2 separate regions of the Homo sapiens genome follow, and region 1 is linked to region 2. The links come from fine-mapping of genetic effects on gene expression. A gene starts in region 2. The other region holds a variant in brackets. All regions are shown on one strand. Distances are between the middles of the regions.

The links. PIP is the estimated chance that this variant, and not a neighbour inherited with it, causes the effect.
Region 1: its variant is fine-mapped to the expression of RIPK1 in whole blood (TOPMed, PIP 0.99).

The regions. Positions count from the first base shown.
Region 1 is chr6:2,970,285-2,975,661 of GRCh38, forward strand. SERPINB6 (serpin family B member 6) reads right to left here and starts at 1,283. Exons shown (of 7, transcript NM_004568.6): 1 at 1,249-1,283. RefSeq lists an enhancer at 1,064-1,588. The variant T/C (reference allele first, on the strand shown) is at 3,049.
Region 2 is chr6:3,066,405-3,071,781 of GRCh38, forward strand. It overlaps RIPK1 (receptor interacting serine/threonine kinase 1), which reads left to right and starts at 2,090. Exons shown (of 11, transcript NM_001354930.2): 1 at 2,090-2,257. RefSeq lists a silencer at 1,959-2,748.

The DNA of each region.
Region 1 (5,377 bases), 96 kb before region 2:
CATTGGAATTGGCCTTAACTTAAAATACTTAGTTTACATAGTCGAGTATGACCAAAGTACTTTTCTCTTTGGTGGCACATCACAATGGATGCAATTACTCAGATACGGTCCTGAAATGAGAACAAACGCCATCTATGCTGATAACAGCAGTCACTGGTGTTAATCCCAGCACACATAAAAGCCCCAGCAATACAAGGCCGGCCCAGGACCTTAACTAGAAGGTCACTGAACACATCAGATCTCATCGCATCAGGCCTGACCCCCACCAGAAAGGATGCAGGCAGCTGCAGGGCTGTCATTAGGCACGAGAGCATCCCAGAAAGCAAAAGTGCCCAAAAAATGGACTCAGATGCCCCCTCGCATCTGAGTATTCCTGACAGCATGTGAACATTAATTATTAATTTTCTGTACCTCAGTTTTCCGAAGCCAATCTTTAGGACAAAAAAAAAAAAAAAAAAAAGGAAGAAAATAACTTAAATGCCAATTTGTAGTTAAAGTTTCCTCTTTGCCTTGAAGACATCAAAGCCTGTAATAGTTTGCCTGTAGGGAGTTTAATTCAAACACAGAGCGGTAAGGAGATCCGGGCTGGTCCACACGATCGTCTCCACAGGTCTGGGCGACCTGAAAGTGCTGCGGATTGGCCAAGCCCAGCACGGCCAGTCCAGTGAACACACGCAGGGGGCCCGGATGGCACCGTTTGGCGCCGAACCCCTCGGCCTCTCTCCGCCTCCCGCCCGGCTCCTAACACCCGGCGCCCCAAGACTGAGCACGCGTCCTCCGGGTCGCGGAGCGGGCGAGGGGTCACCGAGGCCGCGGGGCCGACCGGGGTCACCTGTGGCCCGGGAGGCTCTGCGCCGCCCCCATCCCGCGCCGGCCGCCTCTTCCGTGGGCGCTGGGCCTGGGCGCCCGGGGTCCTCGGGTCCGCGGCGTCACCGGCCGGGCTCGCGGCCACGCACGACTCACCCGGCCGCGTCGCCGTTCTCTGCCGCTGCGAGGCTCCGGAAGGGAACCCAAGCCGGACGCTCGCCCGGGCCCCCGCCCCGCTGGGACTGCTGGGGTCACAGCCCCGCGCGGCCACGCCCCATTCTCGGGGCTCCAGCGTCCCCGCGCGCCGTCGACCCACGCGCGTTCCCGGCCCCGCGCGACCCCCACCCTGCCCCCCTCCCCGCTCGCGCCCCCGGCTTTCCCGACTTTGGAGCGACAAACCCAAGCCAGCGTGTCCGAGCGGCTCCCAAGCCAGACACGTACTCCAGAGCGGGGAGCGAGCGAGCAGAACGGCGGGCAGAGGCGCCGGAGCCGCCCCGGACCTCAAATACTCGCGGGGAGGCGGGCGGAGTCCCGGGTCTCGAGCTACCGTCGCCCGTCCGGAGCGCGAAGGGAGAGGCGGGGCGGGACGTGCGGGTCAACCCCACCCGCCAGCCGGAGGGGCCGCGAGTCCTGCCCGGAGGCCTTGACTTTGACCACAGTACAGGGCCCCACCAGCGTGTTTATGGTGCCTCTGTGGAGACTGAATGCTGGCCTGTTTCCAGAAAAGGGCCGGCTCCTGATACACGGCCATCCACTGGGGAGTGCAGAACACGCATTTAAAAATGAGCAGACTAGATACAGGTCACAAAGACTTTGCTGATGAAACAGCTTGCGGCAAAGAAGCCAGCCAGGGGCGGGCGCGGGGCTCACGCCAGTAATCCCAACACTGGGAGGCCGAGGCAGGCGGATCACTGGAGGTCAGGAGTTCCAGACCAGCCTGGCCAACATGGCAAAACCCCGTCTCTACTAAAAATACAAAAATTAGCCGAGTGTAATGGCGCGTGCCTGTAATCTCAGTTGCTGGGGAAGCTGAGGCAGGAGAATCACTTGAACCCGGGAGGCAGAGGCTGCAGTGAGCCGAGATGGCGCCACCGCACTCCAGTCTGGTCCGTCTCAAAAAAAAAAAAAAAAAAAAAAAAAAAAAAAGTAGACTAAATAGCTTTTGCAAAGCAAAAGGAATAGTCAAGCAGAGTAAACAGACAACCTACAGAGTGGGAGAAAATCTTCACAATCTATACATCCGACAAAGCAGTAATATCCAGAATCTACAAGAAACTCAAACAAATTAGCAAGAAAAAAAAATCCCATCAAAAAGTGGGCTGGCATGAATAGACAGTTCTCAAAAGAGGATATGCAAATGGCCAACAAACAAGAAAAAATGCTCAACATCACTAATGATTAGGGAAATGCAAATCAAAACCACAATGTGATACCACCTTACTCCCGCAAGAGTGGCCTTAATCAAAAAATCAAAAACTCAAAAAATAATAGATGTTGGCGTGGATTTGGTGAAGAGGGAACACCTCTACACTGCTGATGGATAGTACAACCACTGTGGAAAATAGTATGGCGATTCCTTAAATAACTAAAAATAGAACTACCATTTGATCCAGCAATCCCACTACTGGGTATCTACGCAGAGGAAAATAAGTCATTATACAAAAAAGATACTTGCACACGCATGTTAATAGCAGCACAATTCGTAATTGCAAAAACATGAAACCAACCCAAATGCCCATCAATCAAAGAGTGGATAAAGAAACTGTGGTATGCGTATACGGTGGAATGCTACTCAGCCATAAAAAGGAATGAATTAATGGCATTGGCAACCTGGATGGGATTGGAGACTGTTGTTCTAAGTGAAGTAACTCAGGAATGGAAAACCAAACATTGTATGTTCTCACTCATAAGTAGGACCTAAACTATGAGGATACAAAGGCATAAGAATGATACAATGGACTTTGGGGACTTGGGGGAAAAGGGTGGGAAGGGAGTGAGGGATAAAAGGCTACAAATTTGAGTTCAGTGTATACTGCTAAGGTGATAGATGCACCAGAATCTCACAAATCACCACTAAAGAACTTACTTGGCAGGGCGCAGTGGCTCATGCCCGTAATCTCAGCACTTTGGGAGGCCAAGGCAGGCAGATCATGAGGTCAGGAGTTCGAGACCAGCCTGGCCAGCATGGTGAAACCCCCGTCTCTACTAAAAATATAAAAAAATTAGGCATGGTGGCACACA[T/C]CTGTAGTGCCAGCTACTGAGGAGGCTGAGGCAGGAGAATTGCTTGAATCTAGCAGGCGGAGGTTGGTTGCAGTGAGCTGAGATCATGCCACTGCACCCCAGCCTGGGCAACAGAGCAAGACCCCATCTCAGGAAAAAAAAAAAAAAGCTTGCCATGTAACCAAATACCACGTGTTCTCCAAAAAACTATGGAAATAAAAAAACTAAAATATATATTAAATTTAAAAATAAATGTATATAAATGAGCAGAGCCCACATCATTGAGCCGTGTGTTCAAGGACTTCCAGTTCTCTCCAGGCATAGGAATTAGACCCCAGGGTACTGACAGGTTAGCCAAGTAAGTATGAAAACTCCATCTGCCATCTCAGACAGAGCAGTCTTGGAAAACAGAAACATCTAGCATAAATGGAAGTAGGGAAGATACTAGCCAGGTGTTTTACATGAGTTCAATTTTGAGAACTCAAGCTGTTTTACTCCCTCTGTGCTTACCCTAAGGCAGAGTTTCTCAACTGCGACACTGTTGACCGCATGAACCCGATAACTTGTGGTTGTGGGGGCTGTCCTGCCATCACACATGTTTCACAGAATCTCTGGAGGAGATTCACCAAGTGGATGCCAGGAGCAAACCACACGCCCCTCCCTAGTTGTGGCTTAATTAGTCTTAAGTGATATAAATTGCGAATATTTCCCCCAGCTTGTCATCTGTTTTCTGACATTGCTTCTGGTGATTTTGGCATACACTCTTTTAATGTAGTCAACTTTAATGATTTTTCCTTTATTGTTTCTGAGTCGTAGTTAGAAAAACTTTCTCTATTCACAAGGAGCAATCTCTTTTTTTTTAAAAAAAAGAATAATCTCTAGATTATAGAGTTCACTAATGTTTTCTTCTAGTATTTGCACAGTTTTATTTTTTATATTTAGATTGCTGATCCCTTTAAAGTTTATTCTGGTGTATGGGAAATATAGATCCAATTTTAACTCGCTTTCAAGTGACTTTCAGTTTTTCCACCTCTGTTTATTGAAAAACCATTTTCACTAATGTCTTCACATGCCACCTATGTTATATATCAAATAGCTGCATATACTTGGGTCTGATTCTGAACTTTCTAAACTTTCTATTTGGTTCTGTTGGTCAGATTCTTTCAGTTATAGAGGTTTTCTCTTATGATTCAATATCTCGTACAGCGCATTCTCCTTACTGCTCTTCTGCTTCAGATTTTCCTGGCTCTCCTTGTTGCTTTTTCTCCCATACAAACTTTTTTTTTTTTTTTTGAGCTGGAGTCCCTCTCTGTCACCCAGGCTGGAGTGCAGTGGTGCGATCTTGGCTCACTGAAACCTCCATATCCTGAGTTCAAGCGATTCTCATGCCTCAGCCTCCCAAGTAGCTGGTATTACAGGCGCATGCCACCACACCCAGCTAATTTTTGTATTCTTAGTAGAGATGAGGGTTCACCATGTTGGCCAGGCTGGTCTCAAACTCCTGAACTCATGATCCACCCTCCTCAGCCTCCCAAAGTGCTGGGATTACAGGTGTCAGCCACCGCACCCGGCCTCACCCATACAAATTTAAGAGTCAACTTGTCTAGCTCTAAAGAAAAAAATCTTGTTGGCAGGGCATGGTGGCTTACACCTGTAGTCTCAGTACTTTGAGAGGCCAAGGCAGGCAGATCACTTGGTCAGGAGTTCAAGACCAGCCTGGCCAACATGGTGAAACCCCATCTCTACTAAGAATACAAAAATTAGCTGGACCTGGTGGCGTGTGCCTATAATCCCAGCTGCTTGGGAGGCTGAAGCAGGAGAATTGCTTGAACCTGGGAGGCAGAGGTTACAGTGAGCTGAGATGGTGCCATTATACTCCAGCCTGGATGATGGAGCGAGACCCTGTCTCAAAAAAATATATATATAATAATTAAAAAAATAAAATTAAACTGTAGTCAAACAGGCCAGATGCAGTGGCTCACGCCTATAATCCCAGGACTTTGGGAGGCAGAGGTGAGTGGATCACCAGAGCGAGACTCTGTCTCAAAAACATAAAATAAAATAAAAATAAAATAAATGAAAATAAAAATAAATCTTGTTGGTAATCTATTAGAAACATATTGAATTTACATATTACCCTGTTATAAACCAACATTTGTACTTTGATTTAGTTGTTCTAGCCAAGAACATGCTGGGTCTTTCTGTTCCTTCAAATAATTTTTTTCCTTTTTCCTTTAAAGTTTTGTTCATGTAAGATTTGCACATTTCTTGTTTAGTTTATTTCTAGTTATTTTATCTCTTTGTTGATATTGTATGTAAGCAAGTTTTTTCCATTATATTTTCCAACTAG
Region 2 (5,377 bases):
GAATGAATTCCTTTTTGTATTTCTTGTATCTATCACCAGATGCTCTTGTATCTAGTACCTGCTTGGCATACAGTAGATAGAAAGCTTTGCTGAGTGAATAGCTCTGCCTTTCGTCTTTTTTGATATGTGTACATCTTTTAAAAAATAATGAATAGACTTTGTTTTAGAGCTGTTTTGGTTTACAGCAAAACTAAGCAGAAAGAAAATATCCCCTTCCACAAACATCCTGGACTGTACAGCCTCCCCTACCATCAACATCCTGCATTACTGTGGAATATTTGTCACACCTGATAAACCAACATAGATTCATGGTTACAAAAATGAACCAATATGGATAAAACATATACATTATCAGCCAAAGTCCGGAGTTTGTTAGGTTTTGCTCTTTGTGTATATTCAAGATACATTTGACAAATGTATAGAGATGTACCCAACCCTGTAACGTCAGACTCCACTGCCCTAAAAATCCCTTGTGCCTCACCTATCCATCCCTCCTTCCCTGCAAATCCCTGGCAGCCGCTGATCTTTTTTACTATCTCCGTAGTTTTTCCTTTTCCAGAATGTCACATAGTTGGAATCATGCATTATGTAGTCTTCTCAGATTGGCTTCTTTCACTTAGATTTATACATTTAGGATTGCTCCAGGATTTTTTTTTTTTTTTTTTTTTTTGTGGCTTCAGAGCTCATTTCTTTTTAGCACTTAATATTCCATTGTATAGATGTACCACAGCTTATCTGTCCACCCATTAAGTGATATCTTGGATGCCCTCAAGTTTTGGCAATTATGAATAAAGCTGCTATAGACATTCTTGTACAGGTGTTTGTATGGGCATAAGCTTTCAACTCGTTTGGGTAAATACCAAGGTGTGGAGTTGCTTCATCTTATGGTAAGAAGAGCTTGGTTAAGAAATTGCCAAAATGTCTTCCAGACTCTAACATTAGGCATTCCCACTAGGAATGTATGGGAGTTCCTTGTGCTCCAGATCCTCATCAACATTTGTTGTTGTCAGTGTTCTGAATTTTAGCCATTCTAATAAATGTGTAATAGTATTTGTTTTTTTAAATTGCAATTCTTTAATGACATGATGTTGAGCATCTTTTCATATGCATATACATATGGTGAGGTGTATGTTCAGAGCTTTTGCCCGCCTTTAATCAAGTTGTACATTTTCATATTGTTGCATTTTAAGAGGGTTTTTTTTGGTATATTTTGGGTCACAGTGCTTTATCAGATATGTCTTTTGCAAATATTTTCTCCCAGTCTGTGGCTCGTGTTGTGAACGTGGCTAGTTCTCTTGACATACATATCTTTTCACAGTATGTAATCCTGTTGTGCTTTTTTTTTTTTTCCTTTTGAGACGGAATCTTGCTCTTGTCACCCAGGCTGGAGTGCAGTGGCGCGATCTCGGCTCACTACAATCTCCACCTCCCAGGTTCAAGGGATTCTCCTGCCTCAGCCTCCCGAGTAGCTGGGATTGCTGGTGCCCGCCACCACGCCCAGTTGATTTTTGTATTTTTTAGTAGAGATGGGGTTTCACCATGTTGGCCAGGCTGGTCTCGAACTGCTGACCTCAAGTGATCCGCCCGCCTTGGCTTCCCAAAGTGCTGGGATTACAGGCGTGAACAACCGCGCCCGGCCTGATGTGCATATAATTTTATTATTTGATTTTTAATATACATGAATAGCATGCAGTTCCAACTTTGCTCGAGACTTCACAATTACCATTTTAAAGGGCTGCAAAATAATCACATTTCCTCCTCAACAGCCCCACTTTACAGATGAAGGTAGAGGAATGCTAACTTGCCTATGCTAACCCGCAGAGCTCTGAATCCTCCGGATAGCGCCCCCGCTGTAATCCACCCAGTGCTTCCCTCCAGACCCTTCTCCCTCTCGTGCGCGCGGAGGTTTCGGTTTCCTCTTTTACGTAGGCCGCCCCACTCGCTTGAAAACAAAGTCCGCGATCCTCTAGCCCGCAAGAGAGCTCCGGGACTCAGACCCCGGGCGCGAGGTCCCACGAGCGGCGGGGCGGCGCTCTCGCGGTCCTCCTCCCCGGCAAGGGCCGGGGCAGGGGGAGGAGGCAGCGCGAACAGTCCACGCCCTCCAGCCGGGCGCGCTCGACGCGGACGGCGGGCCAGCTGCCGGAGCGCGGCGACTCCAGGGGACCCACAGCTGGGGCGCCAGAGCGCGGCCATCCGGGCGGGGCCGACGGAGCGCGGCAGGACTTGGCTGGACGGCGCGGCCACGGAGAAGGGCGCGGTGAGCGGACTGGCACCGCGCGGGGAACATTCCGGAGGCCGCCGGGCTCAGTCCCGGTGACCCCCCTGGTCGGGGTTCGCGCGCCCTCCCCCAGCACGCCCGGGCAAGGCTGCCGCGGCGTCGGAGTAATCCCCAACCCTCCGCCGCCGCTTCTTCCCTCACCCGGGCCTCCAGACGTTTGCCGCGGAAACGAAAGTAACGCTCGGGTGCTTGCGTGGAGGCCGGGGCGGCCGCGGGCTTCCCGGAAGGAGAGGGACTCTGCCCGGGGTGCGCGCGGCGGGCGGGCCCCGCCGGTACCGGAAGTCGGGCGGTGGGCGGGGCCGCGGGCGCTCCCGGAAGTCAGGGGTGCTCCGCTAGGTGTCTCTGCTTATCCGGAGTCCGCTGGCCGCCTCTGTGCCAGAGGTCGGGGCGCTGGACTGGTAGCGGGCGGAGACCTGCCTTTGGGCCGCGGTTACCGCGTGAGGGTGGAATAGGCAGTCCCACACGCCATTAATGTTGTTTTGGTGGAGAAGGTGGGCTCCTAGTGCCCTATCATTAAGAAAAAACAGTTTGGGCTCTTCCCTTACCAGCCCTTTGAAAGGGCCTTTTACTGTTGCGCTTGAGGCCGCAGCAGGTTCCAAAAACAAAAGCATTTCTGCGTGATCTTAGACGACTGAGGGGACGAATGTGGTAACCCTAGCAGGCTTCTGTCACTGGCAGGTGCTTTTGTGAAGTGCTGCGGACCCTCTTGAGGGTTGGGAAGAGGATAGGCTGCATCCTCCTTCCCTAAGCATTTGACAAAGCCTCACAGGGATGCGGGGGTTGCGGGGGCAGGGGGAGGTCTGGGGTTGTTAGTTCTTTCTCTCTTGCTGACCATTTGGCTCTCCCTTAATCAGAGCTCTTTTTTATTTTGGGCAAAGCAGGAGGCTGTTCCAATGATTAATTCTTCCCTGACTTACACTTGAAGAAGCCAAGGCAGGAAGTGAACTTTGAAATGTGCAATGTCTTAGTACTCATCTGCATTCTGTGACTGCTAGGAAGATGGACTGAGTCAAGAGGAAATTGTCTTGTTAGAAATGTGGAATACTGCGTCGGGCACGGTGGCTCACTCCTGTAATCCGAGCACTTCGGAGGCCGAGGTGGGAGGATCACCTGAGGTCAGGAGTTCGAGACCAGCCTGGCCAACATGGCAAAACCCTGTCTCTACTAAAAATACAAAAATTAGCCAGGTGTGGTGGCGGGTCCCTGTAATCCCAGCTACGCGGGAGGCTGAGGCAGGAGAATGGCTTGAACCCAGGAGGCGGTAGTTGCAGTGAGCCGAGATTGCCACTTACACTCTATCCTGGGCGACAGAGGGAGACTCTGTATCAAAAAAAAAAATAAATAAAGAAATGGGGAATACTGCAGCTCTTCTATTCACAAAAAGTGAAGACTAGGCTTGTTTAAAATGAAATTTGGAGTGTATCATTATTACTGATAAAATAGCAAAAATGATAACTTTTAATACTCATTTTCCTCTGTCTGAACTATACTGAGCCTCAGAGATATGTTGTACTTTCTGGAATGTGAATATTAATGAGTATTAAGAAAAGCTCTTAAACAGCCTCTTTCAAACTGGGCAGCTTACTTTTTGGTGCTTATTAATCTATAACGTGTTAACATCCATATGATCTGGGAATTTGAAGAAAATACTTAATTTCCCATGCTTTAGTTGGATATTACATTCTGGCAAAAAAGGTTGACTGTATTAATCTGTAGAACATTGATTTTGAACCATATATTTCAAAAATACATGAGCCGTGTATTTTTATTTTTGAGACAGAGTCTTGCTCTGTCACCCAGGCTGGAGTGCAGTGGCGCGATCGCGGCTTAATGTAACCTTCGCCTCCCGGGTTCAAGCAGTTCTCCTGCCTCAGCCTCCCAAGAAGCTGGGATTGTAGGCATGCACTACCATGCCTGGCTAATTTTTGTATTTTTAGTAGAGACAGGGCTTCACCACGTTGGCCAATCTGGTCTCAAACTCTTGGCAATCTGCCCTCCTTGGCCTCCCAAAGTGCTGGGATTACAGGCATGAGCCCCTGCACCTCACCTTCCTGTATTTAAAAAGTTTATTCTGTACTTTCTCCGTGTTTCTGACTGTCGCACATTTATTTAATATAGATGAGTAAGGCTGTAAGGGTGGGTCTTTGCATCTGGATTTTTCCGAAGACAGATTATTTGCTATCTAGAGAAGTAGCATGTATTAGTGAGCCAATAGTGAAAGTTTGAATGAAGGGACAAATATTTCATTCCAGGATCCTACCACTTTAGGTGAATCACTTAGCTCCAAATCTTAGTTTCTTTATTTGCAAATTGAAATCATGATAAAATTTGCTTCAGGGGTTATGATGCTTGTTTAAACTCTGTTTCAATTCTTGTCTCTTGCTGGTCCTTAAGTCTCTTCCTTGCTCAGAGCTTTTGTTTATCCAGGCAAAGCATCAGGCTGCTGTAATCAAGGAAGTTGGAGAAATCCTCTGGTCACTTGGATAGCTGAGCAAAATCAGAATTCTGTTAGTGGGAAGAAAGGGGGCAATGGCAGGTGGGCAACCAGCATTTTCTGCCATTCTCTTGTTATGTGTGGTCATCATAGAAAAATGGGGAAAAAGTTAATTAGAATATTTTGATATGTATACTTACCCTGCCTTAGAAGGTAATCGTGAAATTCCTTGAGATTTCACATTAATTTCAATAGAAACAAATTCACTGTCCTGAGTCCCTGAATTAATATTTATGCAAAACATTTACAAATTCCTTCAAATGGACGTAATTATTAGTTAAAATTATTTGCTATAACAGGCCAGCATGTCTTTGTCACTCTGTGTCATGGCTTTGTAATAATATGGTTATGCAGTATGGCCATATAAGCTGCCTAAATTCACTGTTTTTGTATATCCTTCAACTACTCACAAGGCCTTCCTAAGATATTCAGTGCTCATAAAGTTGAATCTTTCATGTGGAAAAAAGAGGGGTGGATAGGAAAAACAAAAGAAATCACTGAACACCATGCAGAAGATGCAGAAGATTAACAGACTAAACTAGCAAACCGCAAGACTGTAAGGAGAACTGACTTGGGTCAGGAGCTAAGCTCCCAAAGTCCAGTGG